Linked DNA regions of Homo sapiens. The protein of the gene in region 4 interacts with the protein of the main gene of each other region in a pairwise test. Each region holds a gene or a part of one and is shown on either strand. Other genes may lie near its edges. The genes, in order: TENM4, RBP3, HDHD3 and PLSCR4.

Region 1 (7,216 bases), on a different chromosome or scaffold from region 4:
GTCTAGAACTATGACAGACAGAGGCCATGGTTAGCTTGTCTTTATGTCTCTAGCAGCTAGCCAGCTGTTAATCCATGAACTCAAAGAATTGAGAAATCATACATGTATCATATCAACCATGTATGAAGAATCTTTCTTAAGCCTCTGAACAACTCCTACTTCAGCCTCCAGACTCCATCTGCCTTTCCCTCCCATCTTAGAACATCAGCTGCCATTATTTGGTGGGTTATGGTGGGTCAGGGACTCTGTGCTCTTGTCATTCCCATTTCCCATATGTGACTATTGAAGCTCAGAGAGGCAAAGTAACTTGCCCACAGTCATAAGTAGTGGACTATGCTCTGAACTCAGGCCTATTTGACTCCAAAGTCTACCCTTTTGCCTACTATTTTGTTGTTGTTAACTCCTTCTTCATGTTTTGTCAGTCTAATGAGACCATCACATGTCTCAGTGGCAGCTCTTTCATGGTTTCCCGGTGATCAGGGGGCTGACGCTTCATTGTTGATGATAGGCTGCATGAGGATCAAGCAAGACTGTATATGAAGCCACTTTGGACACTGTTATGGGCTACATGGGCTATGGGATGGATTAGTGGTGGGCATCTTGCCAGTCATTTGAGTATCGGTGTCTTCATTGTCAGGTTCACCTGGAGTGGCCCACAGACTTAGCCATCAACCCAATGGACAACTCACTTTATGTCCTCGACAACAATGTGGTCCTGCAAATCTCTGAAAACCACCAGGTGCGCATTGTCGCCGGGAGGCCCATGCACTGCCAGGTCCCTGGCATTGACCACTTCCTGCTAAGCAAGGTGGCCATCCACGCAACCCTGGAGTCAGCCACCGCTTTGGCTGTTTCACACAATGGGGTCCTGTATATTGCTGAGACTGATGAGAAAAAGATCAACCGCATCAGGCAGGTCACCACTAGTGGAGAGATCTCACTCGTTGCTGGGGCCCCCAGTGGCTGTGACTGTAAAAATGATGCCAACTGTGATTGTTTTTCTGGAGACGATGGTTATGCCAAGGATGCAAAGTTAAATACCCCATCTTCCTTGGCTGTGTGTGCTGATGGGGAGCTCTACGTGGCCGACCTTGGGAACATCCGAATTCGGTTTATCCGGAAGAACAAGCCTTTCCTCAACACCCAGAACATGTATGAGCTGTCTTCACCAATTGACCAGGAGCTCTATCTGTTTGATACCACCGGCAAGCACCTGTACACCCAAAGCCTGCCCACAGGAGACTACCTGTACAACTTCACCTACACTGGGGACGGCGACATCACACTCATCACAGACAACAATGGCAACATGGTAAATGTCCGCCGAGACTCTACTGGGATGCCCCTCTGGCTGGTGGTCCCAGATGGCCAGGTGTACTGGGTGACCATGGGCACCAACAGTGCACTCAAGAGTGTGACCACACAAGGACACGAGTTGGCCATGATGACATACCATGGCAATTCCGGCCTTCTGGCAACCAAAAGCAATGAAAACGGATGGACAACATTTTATGAGTAAGTACTAAAACAAGGCCATTTGATGATTTTGTTTCATTAATTCATTGTAGGATTGGAGGTAAATTGATCGAGTATTTTATTTTAATTCAGGATTTGGGATAAAAACTATTACTTATAATACATTCTACATGTTCATATTCCACATGATTTCTCCTAGGAAGGAAATGGTCTAGTGGAGAAGGCATAAGCTTTGGAGTCAGAGGAGCTGGGCATCAGTTCCCACTCTACCATGGACTTAATCCCTATTGGCCTCAGTTTCCACATCTGTAGAATGGATACAGTGGATACCTGCCCAGCATACCACAGGGAGATGGTGTAGATGAAAAGTACTTACCTGATGAAGTGCTAGCATCTTCATATGACCACTGTCCACAAATGTGGCAAGGGGAGAAGGAACAGGCACATGTGGATGAATTTTCCACATAATTGAAGCTCTTGTCTTCAAATTCCAAAAAAAAACCCTTTTCATTTTAACCATTTTGCATGGGACTTTTCTTATGAAGTGTATTGCATACCTCCCTTCTCAAACACACTACACAGACATAATGAAACCTTTCTTTTTCTGATTCAGGGTCATTAATAAGGAACAACAATTGCATATTACGCTGTAATATGAAGAGAGCTTTCAGGAAGTAGGGAAATGAGGATATAGAGCCCTTTGCCCCTGCCTGAAGTGATTTTAAACCATTACTTTATTAGGCCCTGTATCTAAAGGGTAGGTTTCTCTGCCTCCTCCCTCAGGGTTGTGCTGTGGTGTCACTATTTATTTCAGTCCTAGTGCCCACCTCAAGTAGCTCATTTCTTTATTCTTCATCCAGTGGAGGACTTCTTAAGAGGTGTGATCAGAGAACCAGAAGTTCAGCTTATTATAATCCTAGCAACAATTAAATATATATATCTGGGGTGTTCCTCTAAGAGATATTTAATGAATGGACTAACATCGCTCTTTCTACTTAGATTTTTTTAAGCTGCTTTTTGAGGTCTTAGCCATGGTTCACACGACTGAGATTGCTGAATATGTCACCATTAGATAAGCATGTGAGAGGTGGGGAAGGAACTAGCCTTGTTGAGTATTAGCTGTGGGCTAGGAGCTACACCACTGCATTTAATCTGCACAACAGCTCTGAGGATGGGTGATATTATCCATTTTACAGACATAGAAACTGAGGCTCTGAAGGCTCCTTTGCCCACTGTTTGATAGTGAGACATGGCAGAACAGGGATCGCAGTCCAAGTCTGATGCCAGAGCTTGGGCTTTCTCAGTGCTGCCCTGCTGCCCTCCCTGCATCCTACCCCCGCACCAGTGCCACACTGAGTTTGTTAATTCCAAATGAACCTGACTCTTTAAAGTTTTTCTCAAGCTTGATCAAGCATCAGTTTCTAACAGTCCTAGGAGAATCCAAAGGAAAAGGATCTGTAGTTGATTTTTAAATATAATTTGAACAGACATGTCACAGCGATTTGTACAAAGTTCACTGGCTAAATTCCTTTCTCCAAACAAGGACCTTGTTAATTACAAAGAAAAGACAAAGATCCAGGAAAACAGCAATTATCTTGATTAACTCATTGGAATGGAAATACGCTAAATAATTCCATTTTGCCCATTGCCCGATGGAAATCTCTTATACATTATTTAGCCAATACAGGGGTTTCTTTGTCAGAGCAAGTCTGTGCACTCAATTAGTTCCCAAAGTCACTCCCTCAGATCCCAAACCGAATGCTCACACATCACTGCATCCATTACGCTCCACCACCCCTGAAATCTAAAACGGTTTCCTACACTTCTACCAGGAAAGATCCCTCCCTTTCTTTCCTTGATGAAATATACAGCTATAGTTGATGTTTAGTGAAGAAGGAAAAGTTTTTACAATTGCTTTTTTATAAAATGGCGTCTGGAATTCCAAAGACTGCACTTCATAGCGGTACCCAAGAGTGGTTATCCTTGTTAACACAAACCAGAAGTGGTAGATAAAAGTCCTAAAATAGAAAGGGAAACTAGTTTGTTTTTGTTTTTGTTTTTGTTTTCTGAGATCCTACTATGTGCCAGGCTCTTTCCCATTTAATCTTCACAGCAACCTCAGATGGCAGGAATTATCATCCACATTTTTTACATATGAAGTACAGAGAGATTAGATAACAAGCCTGAAACCACACAGTGAGTATGTAGCAGAACCAGAACACAAGTCCCTGTTCTTTCAACTGCACTGGCTAGGGTCACCTACATTCTTTGTGACTTATCTGTACGATAGGGATGACAATAGTTATGTATTTCATAGGAATAGTATGAGGTTCAAAATTTCAGTGAGATAAAATATGGAAAGCTCAGTGTCTGATTGATTATAAGTACTCAAATGATAGCTGCTGCAGTTGTTGTTGTTGTTGTTGTTGTTGTTAATGCAAGCAATATTAGTGGCAGTACCAGTAATTGCAGAAGTGTTGTTTGGGTGTGAAAGGTATTTCCCAGGAGCAACTGCAAGTAAACTAATCAAAAGAGTAGACAAAAGTTTTAATTGAGGTAGGTAGGAATCAGAGGTCAGGTGAGAAGAGCAGAATCAAATATGAGAGATCAAGAAATGAACTAAGAAAGAAGTCAGATCCCTGAGAATATCCAAAGTCGGCTGGAAAATAACACGCAGAGCCACCCAAGGCAAAATGGTCCAGCTCAGGCTGAGAATGAAGCAAGGGTGCCAGACACCTATTTTCACTGGCTGCGAGCCATGTGACTCAGGGACAGGCTAGCTGGCCTCCAGACCCAAGTCTCAACCAGACAGAAATAATCCCCTGCCCTACCCCATTTCTGGGCTATTATGAGGACTAAAAAACTAAATAAATACTGAAAGTAAAAAAACTTTGCAAACTATGAGGCTGTCTAGAATTAGAGGTGTACAGATATTTCATTATGGTGTTTCTTAACAAGGATTTGGACAGATTTTGCCAATGAACCATTAATCTAGTGAATTTTCTACCTTTAGCTTCATGAGGCAGTTTAGTAGATTATAACCGAAATGTTCTATTTTTCTAAAAAAAAAAATTGCCCAGGCTTGCCTGTGACATAGGCTATTATTGAAACAAGCTGTTTGTTTATTTGTTTGTTTGTTTGGTTGGTTGGTTGGTTGGTTTGGTTCGGTTTGGTTTTTGAAATGGAGTCTCGCTCTGTTGCCCAGGCTGGAGTGCAATGGTGCGATCTCGGCTCACTGCAACCTCCACAGTTCTCCTGCCTCAGCCTCCTGAATAGCTGGGATTACAGGCATCTGCCACGACGCCCGGCTAATTTTTGTATTTTTAGTAAAGATGGGGTTTCACTATATTGGCCAGGCTGGTCTCAAACTCCTGACCTCAAGTGATCCGCCCACCTAGGCCTCCCAAAGTGCTGGGATTACAGGCATGAGCCACCGCACCCGGCCTGAAACAAGTTTTAAGTCAGCTTTGCCAATTCTCTTAAAAGATTAAATAGTACACCTAACATAAACATCACACACTTCAGAGCACCTTGATTTACAGAGTTCACAGTTTTGGAGAATCAAGGTTACTTTCCTCCCCTCAGCCCACAGGTCTGCTGGTAGGAAGCTCAAAGGAGTCTGAAATGCAGTCCCCACCTCCCATGTGTGGCATCGTTACTCTCAGACTTAGCTCCTGGTCAGATGGCATTTGGTGGCTGAGAAAATGGCCTCATAAGTATGAGGCAGGTTCCAGAATTGACTTGCTGGATGGATATGAGCAACCCCCTTCCCTGAATTTCATAGGGGAAGGGGCTCTGGCCTCCCACAGTGCCCTGTGACAACTCCTATTATAATTATGCTCACCTTAACTACTGTGAGACCCTTACAAATTTGTCTTTGCGTCAAGCTTAGGGTTTGCCAACTAGTCGGCTGACAGATAGTCAATATTTTATAATGACACGTAAATTCAGAATGGAAGGGAAATAGAGACAGGAAGAAAAGATATGCTGTAGTGAGAAGAATGCTAGATTCACGTCTGAGCACCAGCACTGCCAGTGCTCCCAACGGGACATAGAACTCAACTGAAATGGGTCAAATGAAGAGATTTGGCCTCTGGTTTTTACTTGGGGATAGGAAAGCTGGAAAGTGCATCATGCCCAACCTTATCATGAAAATAAGCCAGACAAAAGGTAAATTCGTGCGTTTCCTTGAACTCCTTCTCTGAGGTCAAATCCAAGGAGAGACAGAGTCTTGCAGAAAGAGACAAGATGTGGGCCCTGCACCACATCTTGCTGCTTGTGGGCAGATGCACCAGCTCCGGGGAGAAAGAGTTCAGCTGGGATGGCTGGTGAATTTACAAAGGCTAAGTGTGTACTGGCAAGAGAGTCTGAAGCCCTTGGAGGCTGTAGCAATTGGGCAGGTCCATGTCTTCTTAGGGACTTTTTTCTCTACAAATCCCACCAGGAGTTTTCCCACAGAAAAGAGTGAGGAAAGATTTAAGAAGAAAGTGTCCTTTGTGGTCGACCTGGGGGAAGGTCACAGCAGCTGCTGAGGGAGGAGCATACACCCCTGACCACTCTACCCAGACCCTGCTCACCTCATCTTCCATCAGGAACAACACCCTTCATCTGTGAAGAGAAGGGCAGCGAACACTGTCCTGCCTAGGCACTGGGGAAAATCCTTTCAGCTGAATGAGGGAAGAAAAGAAATGGAAAAAAAAAAATCCCACATACCTGAGAGTCAGAACCCTAGCAAAGGCTTTGCCACCACCATAGTTAGCTGGAAGGCTAAAAGCATCAGTGAAGGGCAGAAGACTGCTGGGAGGGAGTTAGAGAACGGCAGGAACATGGAAAGAGACCCTCTCTGAGTCAGCACAAAGGGAGGACCCAAGGGCTGAACTGTGGACCTTGAGGGAAAAAAACCCTCTGGCAAACCAGTTTCACATCCTAAACACAGGGAATTGCTAAGGGAATTTAAAACCTATGATACCTAGAGGCTAACCATAAACAGACTTCAAATCCTAGGTTAACCCAAACCCCCTCACAAAAGTCCTAGCACAAGGAAACTCACACCCATTTCCAGGCATAAACCTATCACTCACTCAGGCTCTACCATGCTACACAAGATGTCACGCTTTCAACTGAACGTACAAAAGGGCAAGAAAAGGCAACACATTCCCGAGAGGCAAAGAAATCATCAGAATCACGTTCAGGTATGACACAGGTGTTGAAACTATCTGTCAGAGAATTTAAAATAACTATAATTATTTTAAAGGCTCTAATGGAAAAGGCGAACAATGTGCAAGATCAGATGGATAATTTTAGCAGAGAGACAGAAACGATAAGAAAGAATCAAATGGAATTGTTAGAAATGAAAACCACGGTTATAAGGATGAGAAATGCCTTTGATGGGCTGCTCTCTCTGGAGGACACAGCATGACACAGCTGAGGAAAGAAGATGGTTAATAGAAATTACCCAAACTAAAATACAGAGAGGAAAAAAAAGAGTGGAAAATGCAGAACATGGCATTCAAGATCTGTGGGACAACATCCAATAGTCTGATATACATGTAATTGGAATTCCAGGAGAAGAGGGAAAAAATAGGGCAGAAGAAATATTTGAGGAAATAATGGCAGAGAATTACCCATAATTAATAATGGACACCAAACCACAGATCCAAAAAGCTCAGAAAACACCAAGCAGAATAAGTACATACACACACACACACACACATTTCTAGCCATATATTCAAATGGCTGA
Region 2 (7,216 bases), on a different chromosome or scaffold from region 4:
AGATGGCCACCAAACTGAGCGGTCTGCAGAGCCGCTACTCCAGGGTGACCTCAGAAGTGGCCCTAGCCGAGATCCTGGGGGCTGACCTGCAGATGCTCTCCGGAGACCCACACCTGAAGGCAGCCCATATCCCTGAGAATGCCAAGGACCGCATTCCTGGAATTGTGCCCATGCAGGTGAGACCCAAGAGAGACCTGGCTGAACCCAGTCCCGGGAGTGAGTTGACCCATTGTCCGCACATGCAGGGCTCTGTGCACAGTGCGTGACAATGGCTTTTAGATTTGTTCTCACGTTTAAGTTTTGACCGGTCAAGTCCTTTCCTCTTTCTCAACCTGTTCCATCCACTCTCTGTGACCCTGGGGTTGCTGAACACCTCTGTAGAACATTCATATTAGGTTGGTGCAAAAGTACTTTCAATGGCAAAACCCGCAATTACTTTTGCACCCACCTCACAGGAAGCCAGTTTGAAAGCCAACCAATACTCACAGGAAGCCAGTTCGGAAGCTCCTGGGATAGAAGGCATTTCAGCCTTGGCTGGGTGGAAGGTGAGTGTTGGCAGGGCTTCTCATTGTCAGTGCTAGGGAAGAGGCCAACACCTGTCAGAGGTGGCCAATGGACTTCACCAAGTGCCCCACGCTGGCCGAGAGCTCCACCTAGGCAGCACTCACACCTCCACACTGTTCTACCTGTGGTCTGCTGCATCGTCACAATTGGGCAGGGCAGCATTTGCCATGGGATCCCTTGCAAGGAGGGTCTGAGACCAGGGCTTGGGTGCAGGCGCTTTGTCTGGGAGGCGGTTACTGAAGCAGGCATGAAGGAGGGAGCAGGGAGAGTGGGTTGGGAAGCTGACAGGCAGGTGCCTCAAAGCTGTTCTGCTGAAGCCAGGACCCTGACGAGTGCAGGGATGCTCCCAGGCATAGCCCTCTGCAGGCAGGGCCCAGTGGTTCCTGTCCCGCATTGGCCAAGAGTTGCCCTGAGACATGCCTCAGGGTGGGGCAGGCTCCCTCTTCTTGGAGAAGGCCTGAGCTACGGGTGGAAAGGCAGGGCTGTGCTATAGGAGAGCCTGTCAGTGGGGTCGGGTGCAGCTGAAAGCAGAGGGGGCTGAGAGTGCCAAAAGCATCTACTACAGAATTGTTATCCCCATTTTCCGCAACTGAGGCCCGGAGAGGAGCAGAGGGGAGTGGCCTGAGGCCAGAGAGCTGTGACTGAGGGCAGGGCAGGGCCTGGAGGGCAGTGTCTCTGTCAATGAAGTCTCCTTGCCTGTCAATCTCACCAAGACCTGCCTCCCTCCAGCAGCCTTAGAGAGGGAGGAGGAGGTGCATCCACGTGCGAGTAGCCTGTGCTAGGCTTGCAGAATCCCCAGTTTCCAAATCAACATCTCCTTCCTTTCCAGTATAGCCAAGGTTCACGATTTGGAGTCAGATGTGGATTCAGATTCTGGCTCCACCACTTACTGACTGTGTGACCTGAGACTAGTTACTTAATCTCTCTGTGCTTCAGTTTTTCCATGGAAAAGATGGGGATCGTGTTATCTCCTGTACAGGTGGCTGTGAGGATGATGATAAGCTCTACAAAGTGCTTAGTACCGGGCCAGGTGCCTGGTAAAGGTAACTAACATCTTCCAATCCTGCCCCAGTGGAGCAGCTTAGAGACATAGGAAGTATCTGGTAAGGTTGGAGAGGTCAGAGGGGAGTCCATTCCTGGGCCTTCTAGCTCAGGACACCAGGGCATGTGGGTGGCAGACAGGAGCATCCTCTGCAAGGAGGCTGCCCATAGATCACACATGTCCCAGTGGCATGTCACATCCAGACATGCCACTGGGAAAGTCCCTGGTGTCTACTAATTCCTTCAGAAATGTTAGTTCCTGTCCCATGCCCTTAATATTTCCCATGGCGCCTGCTTTCCTGGGCTCTAAAACTGGCTGCTCCTCCTGACACTGAGTAGGACCTCCAACTCTTACAGATCCCTTCCCCTGAAGTATTTGAAGAGCTGATCAAGTTTTCCTTCCACACTAACGTGCTTGAGGACAACATTGGCTACTTGAGGTTTGACATGTTTGGGGACGGTGAGCTGCTCACCCAGGTCTCCAGGCTGCTGGTGGAGCACATCTGGAAGAAGATCATGCACACGGATGCCATGATCATCGACATGAGGTCAGTGGCCAGGGGTCAGTGCTTCCTAGCCAGGACGCAGGGCTGCCAGGGGACAGTCAAAGCTATGGGCCACAGCAGGGAAGAAAAGGAACCCTGTGACACAGCAGAGGACCTGAGGGGGGCCAGGCCTCCTGCCTATCAGGGCTTCGGCCAGCTAGCCCAGCAGATCTGCTGTCATTGCAGGTGGGGCCCAGCACTGGTAGTTTTTGCAAGCTTCTCCAGTGATTCCAATGTGCATTCCAGATTGAGAATTACCCCAGATTTGCCTGGTCATAGGATTCAGTGGGGAGGAGAGGAAGGAGATGTTAAAAACACTGATTCCTGGGCCCCACTCCCCTCTTACTGACTCAGAAGCTCCAGGGGACAGGCCCGATAATCTCTATTTGACAGGCATCCCAGGTGATTCTGATGGTCAGTGGTGTGTGAGACAGCCAGGCCCCCCACCTGGGAGTGTGCCTCACATCATACAAAATCAACACATGACAACCCTGGTCATATGAATCGTACAGGCAGAATTTGGAAATCACACAGGGAAAATTTAGAAGTTAATCACTATTGTTAACAAAAGAATTCTTTGCATCACCAAATGATTGTCAGAAGGATGTCTTCAGCTAGCCACCTCCCCTCTGTTTCTGTAAAAATGTGCCTCATATGTCATGAGTTTACCTCATGGACCAGGGGTAGGAGGTGGATGAGTACCCTCAGGCAGTGGCCAGACCTGGCATCCCATGACTCTGGGGTCCATTGGTGGACATGCCCCAGCACCCTCCCTGGGCAGGTTGCCTTCCTCAGACGGGACCCTTCCATGCTCCCGTGTTGTCTGAAAGAAGTGGCAGGGGGTGGCAGACCAGAAGCATTCACCCAGCTCCAGTTCTCTAGCCCTCAGCGCTCACTCACATGGTTCTTAGTGGTCACTAGGTGGCTCTCGGTCCTGCACCCACTGCTTCTCCTCCCTGGGAGATAAAACATTAGCCCTGGCTCCAGTTCTGTGTGTGTTCACAGCCTGAGCTTGAGGCTCCTGGGGTCTCTCTGATCATTTTATTCTTTAGAAGTTCTGTTGAGCACCCAAATGACACTCATGCTAAGTCTCTTTCTTCTGAATATGCCATTTACACTTTTTAAAGAGGAGATGGCCCCAGCCTGCAAGTGCACTTTGCTTAAAGACCCTCCCACCCCTGAGGTTTGTTTGGAGGTTCAGACACTGACATCACAGGCCCCGAACCCAGCCAGGCCATCCCAGGCCATCAGTTGGACGAGGCTCCTTAACACATCACTAGCCCCAGTGGGGAGACAGGGGCCCAACGAGGTCACACAGTGGGACAAATCTAAATGGCCTGGGAGAAATACAGGCTCCCCTGCTCCCAATGCAGCTCCACAAGCCTGAATATTTCAATACACTAAGTGCCCTGTTAAGACACCTGAACTAAGACAGCTGGTAGGTGTCATAAGATTGTCACAGAATGCAACGGGAAAAACAATGTTTCCCAAAATGTGTTCCACTCATAGGAAGATATGGGTGCAGGGGAGCAGTCCATGGTCAATAAATGGGGGAAATTTATCAACAAGTTTCTGACTGCAGGACTTGTCAGGGCCTTTAATATATTAACATGTATTAATTACATAGCAGAAGGAAAGGATAACATATTTGATCACTAAGTTTCTTGTTCTAAAGAGACTAGTACTCTTGGAAATACTCTGGAAAATGCCAACCCATGGAATTCTAAAGGAGGAAGAGGCACTAGACTGAGGCTGCCAAGAATTAGAACCCTCCATGGGACAAAGATCCTGGCCTCCCCGAGGGGCACACAGGGCCTCACTGTGAGCTCAGCCCCTGAACAGGCTCTGCTTCCCATCCTTCAGGTTCAACATCGGTGGCCCCACATCCTCCATTCCCATCTTGTGCTCCTACTTCTTTGATGAAGGCCCTCCAGTTCTGCTGGACAAGATCTACAGCCGGCCTGATGACTCTGTCAGTGAACTCTGGACACACGCCCAGGTTGTAGGTACGTGGAGAAGCTTTCTCCTTTCTGCTGTCATTCTAGAAGCTTCTGGGAAACCAGGGAAAGACAGCTTGGGTGTAGGTAAAAGTCATAGTAACCAGAATGTAAGGCCCTGTCCTAGTCCAGGCACTAGATGTGCATGATCTCGAATCCCTGAAAAGCATGTATCACTATGCCCGTTTTCTAGAGGAAAAAAAAGGGGGTGTTGACTAGGTCAAATATCTTTTCTAGGGTCATGCAGCTAATAAGTGAAACCCAAAATGTGAATATTAGTTTGTCTAATACCAAAATTTCCCCCAGGCTTAGCACCATAATCACCAGCCTGCAGGACAAATGCAGAATTTGAAGGATTCTCCCCGCCCCTCACCAACCCCAGTGGGCATTGCCAGTGCTCACAGTACTTGAGCTCTCAAGCCACAGTGCCACAAACTTGCCTGGAAAGGTCATGATGCTGATCGGGCTTCTGTTCCCCGCCCTGGGCCCAGAGCAGTGGCTATAGGAGCAAAGGCAGGCCCTGAGCTTTACAGAACCATAACTCTCAAAGCCCCATTCCAGGGTGGATGGCCTCCATCTATCTTCCCTGCCCAGTGTGTAAGACCAAGGAACTTGTGCTCCTACCCAACAAGAAAGGACTGGAGAGACCGATGGGGGTGTGCCTGTGACCAGAGAAACACCCCACCATTTTCATGTCCATGCTTCTGTAATACACAGGCATTTTGCTGTAGCTCCTAGGACATACGTTCAATAATATTACAAGTGTAAATGCAAATCAGAACCAGGTGAATTCTAAATTCAAATAGATGTTCAAGACTGGAAGTTAAAGATAGACTCAATTCTGCAGATAATGAGGCCCCAAAACCGCAAGGTCCAATATGGGAGCCACAAGCCACCTGCGGCCACCAAGCATTTGAAATGTGGCTCTCCCAAGTTGAGATGTGCTGGAAGTGTGATGTGCTGGAAGTGTAATGTGCATACCAGATTTTGAAGACATTATGAAAAGAAAACCTCATTAATAATTTTATTTGATTACATTTTGAAAAGAATGTATTTTGGATACATTGGCTTAAACAAAACATGATTAAAATTAACACCATGGGTTTCTTTTTGCTTGCTTAACATGGCTACTAGGGAACCTAAAATGACATCTATGGCCAGCATTCTGGCTCACGTTGCATTCCTGTTGGACAGTGCTGTCCTGGAGAGTTGTTCTTATACATCACAAATTGGGCTTTTCTGAGTCCAAAGTGAAAAGGAAGTCAGGTCGGTTTAGGTGTTCTCATTATTCATGAAGAGAGAGGATGCTCCTTTCTCAGGAGAGTCAAGCCTTTCCTATCACTTGGCATAAAAAGGCCTCGTTGGGAGTTGTCAAGCACTGAAATCCTCGTGATTGGGCATGCATTCTTGTCCCCATTTTACGGATGCAGAAATCAAGGCTCAGAGAAGTCAAGTGGCTCACAAGTGGACACAAGGACACAGACCTAAACCCCCGGGCCTCCTCCATCACTGCAGGCCCAGGCAGGATAGAGAAGACAGGTGCTCCAGGGTCCTGACATGACCCCCATCCTGAAGGGCCTTATGTCTTCCAGGTGAACGCTATGGCTCCAAGAAGAGCATGGTCATTCTGACCAGCAGTGTGACGGCCGGCACCGCGGAGGAGTTCACCTATATCATGAAGAGGCTGGGCCGGGCCCTGGTCATTGGGGAGGTGACCAGTGGGGGCTGCCAGCCACCACAGACCTACCACGTGGATGACACCAACCTCTACCTCACTATCCCCACGGCCCGTTCTGTGGGGGCCTCGGATGGCAGCTCCTGGGAAGGGGTGGGGGTGACACCCCATGTGGTTGTCCCTGCAGAAGAGGCTCTCGCCAGGGCCAAGGAGATGCTCCAGCACAACCAGCTGAGGGTGAAGCGGAGCCCAGGCCTGCAGGACCACCTGTAGGGAAGGGCCCCATAGGCAGAGCCCCAGGGCAGACAGAACCTCTGGGACACACACCAAGGGCACTCCTGCAGGTGGCCCGGCCTGAGGTTCCCAGGAGCAGCAAAGGGGCCTGCTGAGCTCTGGTTAGGTTACAGCTGGAGGTGTGTATATATACACACACACACATGTATATACACATATATATGTGTATGTATATATATGTATATATATATGGCTTTCCAATAACCACCTAAATTTTAACAAAGGTTCCTTCTAAGTGGTAGAACTTGGGGTGGTATTTTTACCTTCCTTCTTCATACTTTGCTCTTTTTCTTAAATACTCATTAATGTGCATATATCATTATTTTCAGATGCAGCTATCATTATTCCAAAATACAAAATAAAGAAGATAAAATAAATTATATACCCGAGCCATTAACCACAATTTAGTGATCACTAGTGGTTGTTAAATCTCTTCTTTTCATGAGTTCTCCATTCACATTATTTAGATCTTCTGGATCTGCCCTGCTGACCTCTATGGACAGCTGATTTTATTTAAGATGTGGTGCAAGATGCTGTGGGGTCAGCAGGTGGCAAAGATCTTGTGGATCTTAAATAGGGAAAGGGCTGGTGCGGCCCTTCTGCTGGTGATGTACATACACTGGCTGTGTCTCTTCTGAGCCTCATGCCGGCTGCATAGCTGGCCACTCTCATCTTCTACCCAGGAGCCAGCTGAGACACAGACAAACTCCGCAGCTCACCCAAGGTCACACATCCAGCATGGTGGACCTGTGTCCTCCTTTGGGCCACCCAGCATTTGCAGCACCTTTGGATGATCAGAGAATCACTGCCCATAGGAATCAGTAGGAAACAGTGATGTCAGCCTTGCCTGGGTGGGAAACCAGCCCAGCCACTTCCCCAGCTGAGTGGTTCTGGGCAATTTGTTTCACTTCTTTGGGCCTCAGTTTGTTCACCTGTTCAATGGGAGAAATAATACTACACTTGGAGTTGTGAGAATGAAGTGAGTTAATCTAGTGTCCAGCCAATGTTAGCTGTCATAATTTCTCCACCACAAAGCTGAACACTCTGGAAGCCCCACTTTTCCAGCCCTTCTGGCAGTAGGGCATGGGCATGTGATCCTG
Region 3 (7,968 bases), on a different chromosome or scaffold from region 4:
CCATATGAGCAAGCCGCAAGGCCTCCTGGAAAATGCGGGGGTCCGGCTTGGGCCAGCCAGCAGCCTCGGAGGTCAGCACAAAGTCGAAGTGTTCACGCAGGCCAAGGCCCCCCAGGATGCCCTCTAGCCGTCGGTCAAAGTTGGAGATCACTGCCAGTCTCAGACCCCGTGTGCGGCACTCCCTCAGGGTGTCCTCAGCCCCATCCAACACCTGCCAGGTGCAGGGGTGGCTGAAGTCTTTATAAAGCTGTTCAGCGATGGGGGCTACAGCCTGAGCATCCTGGACACCCGCCAGGTGGAAGGTCTGCAGGACCACATCCAGCCACCACTGGCGGGAGGTTAGGCCGTGGCTCAGGCCGTAGTTGGGGAAGCTGTGGCTCTGAGCCCTGTATGCCTGCCTGAAGCCTTGTTCCAGGGCTGAGGGCTCCACCTCCAGCCCATGGGCCCGGGCCTTGGTGGCATAGGCCTCCCCTAAGGGGTGGCGGAGCCTGAGCAGCGTGTCCTTCACATCCCACGTCAGCAGTCGTATCTGCAGCCGGTGTGCCATGGAGGAGGCCAAGTCCACCCCAGTTCTGCCTCAGGTCCCACGGTGGGTCCCAGGGGAAGCTGAGCTGGATAAGACCACCTCTGCGCAACCTAACAATCACCTCTTTCCAGGCCTTGTGGGTCAGATTTGCTGGCTAACATGAAGCACTTGGGAAATGTCTTCACAGCACAAGATCCTAGAATGAAAAATAGCAGGTAAGGTGGAAGCTCAGGCCCTGACATCAGACAGACTGGGTTCAAATTCTGGTGCTGCCAATGGTGTGACCCTAGGAAAGTCACTCTGAATCCACAACAAATTTCTGAGCACCTTTTTGAGCTAGCTGCTAGCATATGGGATAGATTTCCAGCCCTTAGGGCATTTACAGGCACTGAAGAACAGGGATACGGATATTAGGCAAAGAACTATACAAACACTTAAATATAATGAAGTCAATAGATACCGTAAGGATCTAAATCCAGGGACCGCATCTAGTCTGTGTAGTTAGGGAATGTCATAAGCAAGTGAAGTTTCTTTTTATTTATTTTTTTTAATTTTTTTGTGAGACAGGGTCTCTCTCTGTCTCCCAGGCTGGAGTGCATGGCTCATTGCAGCCTCGATCTCCCAGGCTCAGTCAATCCTCCTGCTTTAGCCTCCCTAGTAGCTGGGGCTACAGGCACGTGCCACCATGCCCGGCTAATTTTTGAACTTTTTGTAGAGATGTGGGGTGGTGGGGCGGGGTGGGTCTCACTATGTTGCCCAGGCTGCTCTCCAACCCCTGGACTCAAGTGATCCCCCAGCCTTGGCCACCCAAAGTACTGGGATTACAGGCATGAGCCATCACTCCCAGCCCTGCAAGTCAAGTTTCAATGGAGATCAGAAGAATGAATGTGCAAGAAGCAGAGGTAGGTGAGTGCTCCCGTCAGTGGAAATAGCAAGTGCAAAGGCCCTGAGGCAGGGCAAGTAGACAGAGGCCAGCTGTCTGGCACACAGGACACAATTATTATGATTGCTATTATCATTATTAGGGATGTCAAAGACAGAAGGGGCCTTGCAGAGCATATGAACGATATCTTGGCTGCTGGGCAGAGTAGACTGAGCCAGAAAGGGGCAGGTACTTACCCAAGGTCACAGTGAGTCAGTGGCACAGCCAGGACCAGAACCCAAACTTCCAGACTCTCTGGCCAGTTCTTCCACTGTACCATGAGATATATTTGGATTTTAAAAATTGGTGAACCTGTACAGCACAGGAGAAAAGACAGGACACAGCAGGCTGTCTGTCTCTAGCCCTCTCTGAACCCCAACTTTTCCATCTTTACTGGAGGTAATAACACTGGCCTAGGAGGAGAGCTGATGAGAGAACTGACTCAAGGCACAAGAAACAAGTGACTCAGCCTGCTATCCAGAGGCTGGTGCAGCTTCTTTCCCCAGACAGAGCTGATCCCAGACAAGGCCGTCCCCTTGAAACCTGAGGGGCCAGAGTTCAAAGTACGGCTAAGTTGATACTTAGGGAAGGGCGTCACTGGTAAATCTGGGGGAGCCTTGGAGGAAGTTTGTCCAGGAAATGAATTAAGGAGACTCATCCAAAGATCCTCTCATTTTGCAGGTGGGTAGACAGAGACCCAGTGAGGGGCAGTAATTTACCCCCAAATCACACAGGGAGTCACATTGGCACAGCTAAGACTAGAGCAGAGGGCTCTGGCTCCTGACCCACGGCTTTTTTTTTTTTTTTTTTTTTTTTTTGAGGCGGAGTTTCGTTCTTGTTGCCCAGGCTGAAGTGCAATGGCGCGATCTCGGCTCACTGCAACCTCCGCCTCCCAGGTTCAAGCGATTCTCCTGCCTCAGCCTCCCAAGTAGCTGGGATTACAGGCATGCGCCACCATCCCCGGCTCCTTTTTTTTTTGTATTTTTAGTAGAGACGGGGTTTCTCCATGTTGGCCAGGCTGGTCTCGAACTCCCGACCTCAGCCTCCCAAAGTGTTAGGATTACAGGCGTGAGCCACTATACCCGGCCGGCTTTTTTTCTTTTTTTTTTTTTTTGAGACAGAGTCTCACTCTGTCACCCAGGTGTACAGTGGTGCGATCTCGGCTCACTGCAACTTCCGCCTCCCGGATTCAAGCGATTCTCCTTCCTTAGCCTCCAGAGTAGCTGGGACTACAGGCGCGCGCCACCACACCTGGCTAATTTTTGTATTTTTAGTGGAGACGGGGTTTCAACTATGTTAGCCAGGCTGGTCTCGAACTCCCGAACTCGTGATCCTCCCCCGCCCCACCCCGCCCCCCGGCCTCCCAAAGTGCTGGGATTACGGTAAAGGCGTGAGCCACCGCGCCCGGCAGGGCTTTTTCGATTTCTAAAACCGCGGGTTTGGGGCTCTGCGCTGCAGGCACGAACTGCTCACCTTTTCTCCCCACCTCCAGGGCTCGGGAAAGGCGAAGTCCAGGAGCCCGGACCTGACGCAGAATGTCTATAGCTGCCGTCGGCAGCGTGAGCTGGGGCGGCGGTCCTAGGGGCCTTGGCCGCGGCCGACCCCTTGGGTCCCCTTCTCAGCTGTAGGGCGTCCACGGCTCCGGGCCGGTTCCTGGGCCCAGGACCCACCTGACTCACAAGGAAGCAGATTGAAAACGCAGCCGCAAGGCCCGCGAGCTCGGGCGGAGGTGCGCAAGCGCCGGGCGGTGGGGCGGGGATCGCGCGGGCCGCCCCTCCCTACCATCCCGACCCGCCTCTGTCCCCGCCCCGTCCCCGCCCTTATCCCCCTCACCTTCGCCCTCTCCCGCCCCATCTCCCGTCGCCCTCGCCGTCCCCTCTCCCTCCTTCGTCTCACTGTGCACCTCTCTGCGCCCCTGTCACCCGCCTTCACTGCGCGCCTCCGTTACCCTGCACCATCTACGCCCCTTATTCCCTCCCCGCACCCTCTGAGGTTCCCCAGCCCGCACCCTTCCGCTCCGCAGCCCCCGTTACCAGCACCTTCTCCGCCCTGTCTGCGCACCCCCTGCCCGCCACACCGCCGCTCCTCACCGCTGTCTCCGCTCCCCATCCCCAACCCCGGCTCCTGGCCTCCTTTGGATCGGGAAACCCCCGAGAAGTACCCAGGTTGAGTGGGAGGAGGGGAGTTGGGACCCAGCCTGGCTTGCTTAGTGTTGTGTGAACCTGGGCAAGGCCCAGCCCCTCTCTGGTCTCAGGGTCCCCAGTTGGTATTGGAGGGAATTGCTTTCAGTTGGAAACTTGTTAAATCCAAGATAACTTGGTGAGGGTAGAGTCCGCTGCAGTAACCTGCTTTTTTATTCTTTCTCTTTTTTTTTTTTTGAGACGGAGTCTCCCTCTGTCGCTCAGGCTGGAGTGCAGTGGCGCGATAGCCCACTGCAACCCCCGCCTCCCAGTTTCTTGCGATTCTCCTGCCTCAGACTCCCCAGTAGCTGGGATTACAGGTGTGTGCCACCACACCCAACTAATTTTTGTATTTTTAGTAGAGACAGGGTTTCGCCGTGTTGGCCTGGCTAGTCTTGAACTCCTGACCTCAGGTGATCCGCCCACCTCAGCCTCCCAAAGTGCTGGGATTACAGGCATGAGCCACCGCACCTGGCCTCTTTTTGTTTTTAAGAACCCTGTGGTACCATCCTGGCTAACACGGTGAAACCCTGTCTCTGCTAAAAATACAAAAAATTAGCCGGGCATGGTGGCAGGTGCCTGTAGTCCCAGCTACTCGGGAGGCTGAGGCAGGAGAATGGCATGAACCCGGGAGGCGGAGCTTACAGTGAGCCAAGATTCTGCCACTGCACAATATTTGCCTGGGCAAAGAGCGAGACTGTGTCCCCAAAAAAAAAAAAAAAAAAAAAGATCCCTGTGGTAAGAGCCTGGAATCCTAACCACTAGACCACCAGGGAGCTTTTTTATTCTTTTGAAGAATAAAAAAAGAGTTTTATCTTTGTTTGCAAAAGTAATGTATGTTGGCTGGGCGCGGTGGCTCACGCCTGTAATGCCAGCACTTTGGGAGGCTGAGGTGGGTGGATCACCTGAGGTCAGGAGTTCAAGACTAGCCTGGCCAACACGGTGAAACCCCGTCTCTACTAAAAATACAAAATTAGGCGAGGTGGTTCATGCCTGTATTCCCAGCTACTTGGGAGGCTGAGGAAGGAGAATCGCTTGAACCGGGGAGGTGGAGGTTGCAGTGAGCCAAGATCAGGCTACTGTATTCCAGCCTGGGTAACAAGAGCAAAACTCCATCTCAAAAAAATAAAAAAATAAAAAAATAATAAATAAATAAGGTATGCATGTAATGCATGTTAGTCTCAAAAAACTAAAAAATACAAACATATGAGAGTTGGCCATGCAGAGGGGAAGGATCTGAGTGATGGTTAAGGGACCCCCTGATGCAAAGGCCTCCAGGCAAGAAAGTTTTTTTTCCGAACCAAAGAGACACTGAGGAACTATAGGAATGTTGCTAGCCAGGGGGTTTGGGCCAAAGAGGCTGGGGAGGTACCGGAGGGGAAGCTTTGAGATACTTCTGTGCCTGTGCTCTGTTCCTCTTTAGTCTCATCACCTTGCACTATGACCTTAGGCAAGACAGGTCATAAGACAGCCCCCACCACCCAGGCCCCTTTGAGAGGGTCTTGCCGCATACCCTGGAGGAAGGAACACTGCACAGAGAGGCCAAGAAGAATCTACACAGATGGGTCTTGGTGGGTTTCTCTATTCAGTCTATTAGCGTTTTGTGCAATCCTGTTTCTACATGTGAAGGGGTGGCCTGCCCCTCCACACCTGTGGGTATTTCTCATCAGGTGGGACGAGAGACTGAGAAAAGAAATAAGACACCGAGACAAAGTATGGAGAAAGAACAGTGGGCCCAGGAGACCGGCGCTCAGCATACGGAGGACCTGCTCTGGCACTGGTCTCTGAGTTCCCTCAGTATTTATTGATTACTATTTTCACTATCTCAGCAAGAAGAATGCGATAGGAGAGCGGGCTGATAGTGAGGAGAAGGTCAGCAAGAAAACATGTGAGCAAAGGAATCTGAGTCACAAATAAGTTCAAGGGAAGGTACTATGCCTGGATGTGCACACAGGCCAGATTTATGCTTCTCTCCACCCAAACATCTCAGTGGAGAAAAGAATAACAAAGCAGCATTGCTGCCAACATGTCTCGCCTCCCGCCACGGCGCGGTTTTTCTCCTGTCTCAGAATTGAACAAATGTATAATCGGGTTTTATACCGAGACGTTCAGTTTCAGGGGCAGGCAGGAGACAGAGGCCTTCCTCTTATCTCAACTTCAAGAGGCCTTCCTCTTTTACTAATCCTCCTCAGCACAGACCCCTCGCGGGTGTCGGGCTGGGGGACGGTCAGGTCTTTCCCATCCCACGAGGCCATATCTCAGGCTGTCACATGGGGAGAAACCTTGGACAATACCAGGCTTTCCAGGGCAGAGGTCCCTGCGGCTTTCCGCAGTGTATTGTGCCCCTGGTTTATCGAGAATGGAGAATGGCGATGACTTTTACCAAGCATACTGCCTGTAAACATTTTGTTAACAAGGCACATCCTGCACAGCCCTAGATCCCTTAAACCTTGATTCCATACAACACATGTTTCTGTGAGCTCAAGGTTGGGGCAAAGTTACAGATTAACAGCATCTCAGGGCAAAGCAATTGTTCAGGGTACAGGTCAAAATGGAGTTTCTTATGTCTCCCTTTTCTACATGGACACAATAACAGTCTGATCTCTCTTTTCCCTACATACACGGCCATGTACACTTCGTTGAACCTAAGCATAAAAATGGACAGTTTCCTCTGTATCTGTGGCTCTTCATTCTGAAGGCTCCCATGTCACAAAAAAACTATGATCAAATAAATGTATATGCTTTTTCTCCTATTAAAAAAAATACAGACATATTCAGGGTTAGGCATAGTGGCTCATGCCTGAAATCCTAGCACTTTGGAAGGCTAAGGTGGAAGGATCCCTTGAGCTCAGGGGTATGAGACCAGCCTAGGAAACAAAGTGAGACCCCATCTTGTTAAAAAATAATAACAGGCTGGGTGTGGTGGCTCACGTCTGTAATTGCAGCACTTTAGGAGGCCGAGACCAGTGGATTACTTGAGGTCAGGAGTTTGAGACCAGCCTGACCAACATGGTGAAACCCCATCTCTACTAAAAATACAAAAATTAGTGGGGCATGGTGGCAGGTGCCTGTAATCCCAGCTACTCGGGAGGCTGAGGCACAAGAATTGTTTGAACCTGGGAGGCAGAGGTTGTAGTGAGCTGACATCACAGCATTGCACTCCAGCCTGGGTGACAGAGCAAGACTCTGTCTCAAAAAATAATAATAATAATGCAAAATACAAACGTGTACAAAATAAAAAGCCAGCCCCCCACCAACACCCAACCTCATTCATTGACCACCTAACATCTGTGGGCTCTGTGTCCCCTGTCCTTCTCTGAGGATTCAGTGGGAAACAAGGTGGTTCCTGCCTGCATGGGGCATGGGAGGGGCAGACAACCATTGAGTAGATAAATAAACAAAGTGATTTCAGAGAGAGAAGTGGAAGCGGTAAAAACAATCATTTTATGAACAGTGACAGGGTATCTCTTTGGATGAGGTGGTCAAGGAAGGAACAAAGATCTGAATGGTGAGAAGGAGGTTGTCAGGTTAAGATCAAGGAAAGTACTCCAGGTGAGGAACCGGAAAGAAGGGTGTGGGGCCTCAGCCTGCTTACTGAACAAGGGCAGTAGCCTTGGGGCAGGGAGAGAAGGGCTTCCCCACCCCATCTCACTCCCCAGGGATTGCTGAGGTGACAGTTTTGGTTATGCTATGACACAGTTTTCTAGCAGCACACAAACATGTATCTAATTTTCTTTCTTTCCTCTCTTTCTTTCTTTCTCTTCCTCCTTCCCTCCTTTCTTTCTTTTTTTTTCATTCTTTCTCTCTGTCTCCCTCCCTCTTTTCTCTCTCTCCTTTCTTTCTCTCCCTCCCTCCCTCTTCTCTCTCTCTCTTTCTCTCTCTCTCTCCTTCCTTCCTTTCTCCCTCCCTCCTCCCTTCCCTTCCCTTTCTTTCTTTCCTTTCTTCTTCCCTCCCTCCCTTCCTCCCTTCCTTCCTCCCTCCCTCCCTCCCTCTCTCTCTCCCTCCCTCTCTCTCTGTCTCTTTCTCTCTTTCTTCCATTTTTGAGACGGAGTTTCACTCTTGTTGCCCAGGCTGGAGTGCAATGGTGCCATCTCAGCTCACTGCAACCTCCACCTCCTGGGTTCCAGCGATTCTTCTGCCTCAGCCTCCCGAGTAGCTGGGATTACAGGTGCCTGCCACCACGCCCAGATAATTTGTGTATTTTAGTAGAGACAGGATTTCATCATGTTGGCCAGGCTGGTCTTGAACTCCTGACCTCAGGTGATCCACCTGCCTCAGCCTCCCGAAGTGCTGGGATTACAGGCATGAGCCACCGAGCCTGGCCCTTTTTTTTTTTTTTT
Region 4 (7,216 bases):
CTTAAATCTGTAAAATTTAATTAACCTGTTTGAGCCTTAGTGTTCTTATACATAAACTGGGTAGTATAATACATCATAGGATTACTGAAATACTTAAATGATCTGTTAAATAACATCCTTTACTAAATATTAATTTTTTACAACCGTCTCCAGGCCTTATTTACCTGTAAAATGGAAATATTAATAGTACCTATCGGATAGGATGATCATTTTAGGGATTAAGTCAATTCTTCTGCACAGTTCCTAGCAAATAGTATAGTACTCAATGAATATTTTCTCTTTTCAGAAATCTTACTCCTTTGTTATTATTGTCTTTGTGATAACAGCCTTATATGTGAAGTGAATACCTATTATCCTTGATCCTTTTGGATATAGTAGGCATTTATCTTCATATTTATGAGTTAGATTTTTTTTTAATCAAAGCCTATAGATACAGCCTTCTGAAATTATAGGAAGCCAGAATAAAGGAAAGCAAATCAAAATTACAGCTGGGCAGGATGGTTTACACCTGTAATTCCAACACTTTGAGAGGCTGAGGTGGGAGGATCACTTGAGGCCAGGAGTTTGAGATCAGCCTGGGCAACATGGTAAAACCCCATCTCTACAAAAATAAAAAATAAAAAAATTAGCCAGGCCTGGTGATGTGTGTCTGTGGTCCCAGCTACTTGGGTGACTAAGGTAGGAGGATCACTTGAGCCCAGGATATCGAGGCTGCAGTGACCTGTGATTACACCACTTCACTCCAGCCTGGGTGACAGAGAAAGACCCTTACTCCTAAAAAAAATTACAAGCCTAGTCCAATTTATGACACTTTTGTCTCATAACTTTACCTAGGTTTTTCTTCAGATTTCTCCAGTTTTACTTGTATTAATTTGTGTGTGTGTGTATACATTTAGTTTGTGCAGTTTTATCATTTGTGTAGATTCCTGTTTCCATCAGCACAATACAAATCCCAAACAGTTCCATCATCACCAAAGTCCTCTTTTATTACCATATCCACATTCCTCCCTCCTCTTTGTCCCTAGCCCTTCAGAACCACTAATCTGTTCTCTATGTTTATAATCTTGTCATTTCGAGAGTGTTATTTTAGCAGAATCATATAGTATGTAACTTTTCAGGATTGGTCTTTTTCATCCACAGTAATTAACTGGAGATTCGTACAAGCTGTTACCACTAGTTCATTCCCTTTTATGGCTGAGTAGTATACCATGGTATGAATTTTTAAGGAATTTATTTTTGTACATTTTTATTTTTATCTCATAGGTTTAAACTTATATGAGAGCTCTATGATACTCTCAAATTTATATATTTGTATATAGGTGTGAATTTATACATATGAACAATAATACCTTAATTTAATAATTTATGAAGCTGTGCAGTCCTGTTCCATGTCCTGGGTAATCCTTTCCCCAAATTCTTATGAAAGTACATGTAACACCAGAGAAATAGTCAATAAAATTTTCACTTTGGGCTTTTACCAAATAATTTAATCTTTATGACTCATTATTATTAAACAGGAAGATCTTAATTATTCACAAAATAATATTGTTGAAGATAAATAGCTAAAAACAGGGTAGTGGACAATATTTTAAAACTTTTAAAAAATGGCTTTATAAACCCATGTACACATTTTGTTGTTTTCACAATATATAATTTTCAAAATGCCTCTTTTTTGTTTTCTGTTATAATTTTCATGTCTGAGATTTGATTTTACCCAATTTCAAATCTAAAAAGTCAGCTTAACTGTTTAATAGACTGAGTCAGAAGAAATGAGACTCCTAGGAAGGAGACAGAGGACCGTTTTACAGCACAGCAAGCAGCATAAGTGTGTAGGTTCCCCTCATCTCCAAGTTCTGAGGTTGACTTGGAGAAGCCCATTGCTTCCTCATTGTAAGCCTTTTATTTTTTACTTATCCTGAGAAAATTGTTCTTTCTGATGGAGAAGCAGTGTAGTGTAGTATCAACAGTAAGCCTTGAAACCAAGCCAACTTATCTCTGTGCCACTTCCTAGTTCCATGTTTTAGAAAGTGTTTAACACTTGCAAGCCTCAGTTTCCTCATCTGTAAAATGGAGATTAAAATACTTATATTTTTCAGAGTTATAAATATCAGCTGTTTATGCAGCTTGCCAACACTGAACTTGGACAACTGGCCATTATGTAACAAGCCCTAATTAAGCCTGCTGTCTATCCCAGAGGCAAACATGACCTCATCCGTTAAAGCTTTTCACTGAAATCCAACCTGAAGAATGGCCTGGGTGAGATGGAAGGCTGTCACTCCCAACAATAATTTCCCTAGTCTTTGAATGAGTGAGGACACATCTAGATTGTGTATGTGCGTATGTGTAAGTGTATGTGTATGCATGTAGCATCCTAACTTCTGTCACTGTTTTGTTTGCAGCTGGAGGTGCAGTGTCCTCCTGGTGTCACCATTGGCTTTGTTGCGGAACATTGGAACCTGTGCAGGGCGGTGTACAGCATCCAAAATGAGAAGAAAGAAAATGTGATGAGAGTTCGTGGGCCATGCTCAACCTATGGCTGTGGTTCAGATTCTGTTTTTGAGGTGAAACTATGTAAAAATAGTGTTTCTGATATTTTTCCTACTCATATTAACAGACCATGGAAAGATCTGGTTGTAGACATTTTTTTTTAATGTGAATGAATAACATAGTGTTAGGAAAGAGTTAATTAACCAGTTGACATCAAAAGATTTTAAAGTTATTGTGAGTAGATTGAGGTTTTCCAAAATGAAAGCTTTTTTTATGACTTCAGTACTTGATAAAAATAAAAAGAAATCATTTAATACATTAAATATTCTGAGAGTAAATAGCTTGACCTAATTCATCTATTCTATTGTTGGCTATATGTAATTAACCATTTTTTTCCCTAGATTTCTAGGCTGGGAATATAGGCTCTAAGTAATGCAAGTGCCCAACATGTCACAGAACATACCAAGTACTCCTTAGGCTGTGGAAATACTTATTTGCAGGATACAAGTCTGTCAGCATCCTCAAGAAATCGGATAACACTAACAATATGGATAAAACTTATAATAGTTTTAACATTTTTTTCAATAAAAAGAAAAATTATTTTGTTTTGCCTTTATCTCACTGGCTACAAAATGCTGGTTCATTACCCTACGAGTCTGACACAGGAAATTCCTAGAAATATTTCCTAGGCTTCTTAAAGAATATTTTTTGAATGCCTTGCAATTAGGCAAGATTCATCATCTTCAAAACTGCTTGCTCATATGTTTCCTATGATACTCAAGAAACTTTCCTTAGTTCTTATTTTCTATTACTGTATCGTTAAGCATTGCTTATTTATTAAAAGAGCAATGTAGATAAGCCAGATTGCTAGGGCAGGGTGTGTGTGATCATTCCCATTGCCAAGTGACATTAGAAGTTAGTATTTGGATATTTTCCCTGTGACAAGTGCCAGGTTTCCCCTTTTAGAAACTGAAGCTCGTTGGTATCTGGCCGTATATTAAGAAGACAAGGTGAATTTCACTCACAAAAACTTAAGTGATGTGAAGTGAACAGTACTTGTTTCCCGGTTTTTGCTCATAGGTTTCCCTAGTTTGGAAGTGACTCTCTCCCAATTCCCACCCTTTACTATGTTGAGAAGAATTTCATAATCAGTTCAAATCATACCTCTTCTTAAAAGGTCCCTTAATAACTCATTTGAAGATGAAGAAAGAGCAGCAGTCTGAGACTTTTAAGAATACCCTAGCTCAGTTATTAACCAGTTGCAAGGCAGTTAACCCTTTTTGGCCATTATTTTCTCATTTCAAATTATATAATTACATAGTCTTTTTCTGCATTGTATTTATGTTATCTGAACATAAGCAGAACATTAAAACATGCTTCAATGCGTTTCAATCATCATAAAGGCACATTCTTGTCATTCCAGGTCAAATCCCTTGATGGCATATCCAACATCGGCAGTATTATCCGGAAGTGGAATGGTTTGTTATCAGCAATGGCAGATGCTGACCATTTTGACATTCACTTCCCACTAGACCTGGATGTGAAGATGAAAGCCATGATTTTTGGAGCTTGCTTCCTCATTGTAAGCCTTCTATTTTTGAGTTATCCTGAGAGAGTTGTTCTTTCTGATGGAGAAGCAGTATAGTGTAGTATAAAGAATAAGCCTTGAAACCAATCCAACTTATCTCTGTGCCACTTACTAGTTACATGGTTTAGAAAGTGTTTACACTTGAAAGCCTCAGTTTCCTCATCTGTAAAATGGAGATTAAAATACTTATAATTTTCAGGGTTATGAATGTTAGCTATCATGGTAAAATGACCAGGGGAGTACTTAGATAACATTAGGTATCCATTGGGTATAATTATCATCATTGCATGTTATTTGTCATTGTCACTACTTAAAAATGCCTAGCCTATGATTTCTTAGTGAAATAACTCTAAAGTGGATGTCCCATTCCTCCTTCCTTTCTGCCTGTCACTGTACTCTTTGGGGTTGTCCAATCCTGAGATTATGAAGTTTTTCCTCTTTTTAATGATGAGATTCAGTTAATTGGCACTTCAAATGGAAAACTAACAGTTCCAAATTTGTAACTGCTGCTCTTCACAGTAGGTGCTCTTCATAAATATTTCCCTAAATTTATGTATTTTAACTGGAATGGGGGAATCCCCTAATAAATTACAAAGGATAATACCGCATGCATTATACCTAATTATCTATATATCTACATATAATTCTTTTTCCAATTTCAGGACTTCATGTATTTTGAAAGATCTCCACCACAACGTTCAAGATAGAGAGACACAGCAAGCCATCAACTATGGTTAATTTTGAAAAATGGAAAAGTTGGATTGGGCTTACAGTCAGCACTCAGTTATTTGCAAGTGTATTTCTTTGCTTTGTAGAGTATTTTTATTGGGTGTTAACTTTGACAGCTGAGAGTGGGCTTGCAAGAACACAATCTAAAAGTGTGTTTCAATTGAGTATCTCTCTAGTAGAATAGGAGTTCATCCTGAAAAGCTGTGACTCATTAACCCAGTAAACATATACAAAGTAAGCTTAAAACACTATAAACATGAGATAAGGGAAAATGAATCCAGAGTTCTCATATTAATAGGTAGTGAAACAATAAGGCTTTTTAGAGCAGACTTTGTTGGCATAAAATAACCTGGCTTCTATCCCTAACCCTTTCCTACCTTTCCTCTCCGTCAACATGTCCTCATACTGAAGACAAACTTGTTTCAATGATAGTCTTCATTTTTAAAAACAAAAAGGCAGGCAGACAGAAATAATGATGTTTTCTTGCACTAAGAAGGTACTACTTGTACACATATATCAAAACCTCATTCTGCAAAGTTTTTGAAGGTTTCAATGGGAAATTTGATTTTATTACAAAATAAAACATTTTTTAATGTTAAAGTTTATATATTCCATGCTTGTTTTCTCATTCACTGGCATGGATGATCAGGAGCTGCCTATATATGAAGGCAGAATCAGACTATCAGGAAAGGAGCTGGCCAGGGCCACAGCCAGTCAAGATCTCTGAGCAACTTAGAGACATTGGTGTCATTATATGAAGCTTGCATTTAATACATTTATACATAATACATTTGTACATTTAATTCATAACGTCTCTTGGTCACAGATGCCTTATATATAAAATAAGTTGCCAGATCTCTAAGATTGCCTAGTACACCTTTGTATCTCATTTGATGTGATACCCAGAAGAGATCATTGTTTTTTGTTTTTGTTTTTGTTTTTTTCAAGAAGATCCTTCGTGATCACCATGCTGTTCTCATGGTAAGAACTGGAGTTATGTTTTTAAATTTGGAAATATGACATTTTATGTAGCACTTTATAAAAAGTGAAAGCGACAAATTCCACCGCTGCTTAATACTGCTTTGCTTCTTTTTATTGACATGATAGATAAATATGTATCTACACAGAGTAATAATAATAAAACACAGTAAACATTCTATTTCTCTATGGTCTACAGCATGCCAGTAAATAATATGTAGGACCAATAATAAATTATCAATTACACATTTTTGTGTTAACTAATTAAAAGCATAGTGTATAAGTGAGTACACTCTAATTAACTTGCTTCTGTTGCACTTTAGTTTTCTACCTGCATATGGACTGCATTTTTTTTTTTTAACACAGTCAGTATGTAGAATGGGATGTATTCTTCTGCTGCTGCTTATTAAATAAAGAAAGCCTGAGTGTTCTTAGATGGGGTTATTCTGAGATGAGGGTCTTAGCCTACAGTTCTTTTTGAAATGAAAGGTGCTTTGTTTTTTAATTATATTCATCTTTTCAGGGTAAATTTGTTTTTCTGAGTTTCTCGTAATGCTCATTTTTACATGCTGCTACTAGCTTTTTTTTTTAAAAAAAGTAAAAGTTGCTGCTTTCTAAAATATTAATTGCCTTATATTTGAAAGTGCCATTGCAATCGTAAGTAGACTATGTATTTCCTATAATGATGTCTGATATTTAAATAGGAAATCAGACAAACAATATTCAGAAAGTTTAAGCATATAAACTTTTTATTTTTAACTTGCCTAAATCCCTGTATTCCAAAACCTGCTGCATCATAATAAATATATCTATATATATTTAGCATAAGACGTGATATTTTTAATTTCTTTTTTAAAAAATTATATTTGTCTCTTAGAGTTAAAATTTTCTTTATATAATATTGTCATATGTCATAGTTTTAATACAATTCACATGATTTCTATGTTTCTTAATGATATTTTGTTGTGTAAAATTGATCGGATTGATTAAAAAACAAATTCTCTGGAATTTGTGCGTTCATGCTTTTTCGTATTCTTTATGGCTTTTAAATAAATATACAATGGTTAATAGTAAAACACTGTTTTATTTTTTGACTTTGAATCTTCAAATACTTTTTTCACAGGGATTTTGAAGTAATTTTTATTGATTATTAGGTTTATTCAAGGCCCTTGCTTTCTAATATAAATTTTAAATTATTTTTAATTTATATATTTAATATATATTTAATTTATATATTTTTAATTATATATATTTATATATAATATATATAATTTATATATAATATATATTATATATATTTTTATAATATATAAAAATATAATTTATATATTTTTAATTTAATAAATTTTAAATTATTAAAGTCAGCCGGGCACGGTGGCTCACACCTGTAATCCCAGCACTTTGGGAGGCCGAGGCGGGCGGATCACGAGGTCA

Evidence for each region.
Region 1: the proteins of PLSCR4 (region 4) and TENM4 interact in binary tests that used the Homo sapiens proteins (3 or more experiments, as listed by UniProt).
Region 2: the proteins of PLSCR4 (region 4) and RBP3 interact in binary tests that used the Homo sapiens proteins (3 or more experiments, as listed by UniProt).
Region 3: the proteins of PLSCR4 (region 4) and HDHD3 interact in binary tests that used the Homo sapiens proteins (3 or more experiments, as listed by UniProt).

The regions. Positions count from the first base shown.
Region 1 is NC_000011.10:78,695,825-78,703,040, reverse strand, and holds part of TENM4 (teneurin-4), read left to right. Parts: intron 1-637; coding exon 638-1,515; intron 1,516-7,216. UniProt on the Homo sapiens protein: Involved in neural development, regulating the establishment of proper connectivity within the nervous system. Plays a role in the establishment of the anterior-posterior axis during gastrulation.
Region 2 is NC_000010.11:47,351,363-47,358,578, forward strand, and holds the end of RBP3 (retinol-binding protein 3 precursor), read left to right. Parts: coding exon 1-176; intron 177-1,962; coding exon 1,963-2,153; intron 2,154-4,013; coding exon 4,014-4,156; intron 4,157-5,739; coding exon 5,740-6,095; 3' UTR 6,096-6,519; downstream 6,520-7,216.
Region 3 is NC_000009.12:113,373,808-113,381,775, forward strand, and holds the start of HDHD3 (haloacid dehalogenase-like hydrolase domain-containing protein 3), read right to left. Parts: upstream 3,180-7,968; 5' UTR 2,922-3,179; intron 2,794-2,921; exon of another isoform or gene 1,761-2,793; 5' UTR 1,646-1,760; intron 723-1,645; 5' UTR 548-722; coding exon 1-547.
Region 4 is NC_000003.12:146,191,977-146,199,192, reverse strand, and holds the end of PLSCR4 (phospholipid scramblase 4), read left to right. Parts: intron 1-2,399; coding exon 2,400-2,561; intron 2,562-3,910; coding exon 3,911-4,069; intron 4,070-4,737; coding exon 4,738-4,782; 3' UTR 4,783-6,858; downstream 6,859-7,216. UniProt on the Homo sapiens protein: Catalyzes metal ion-induced ATP-independent rapid bidirectional and non-specific movement of phospholipids (lipid scrambling or lipid flip-flop) between the inner and outer leaflet of the plasma membrane and participates in the redistribution of phospholipids between membrane leaflets.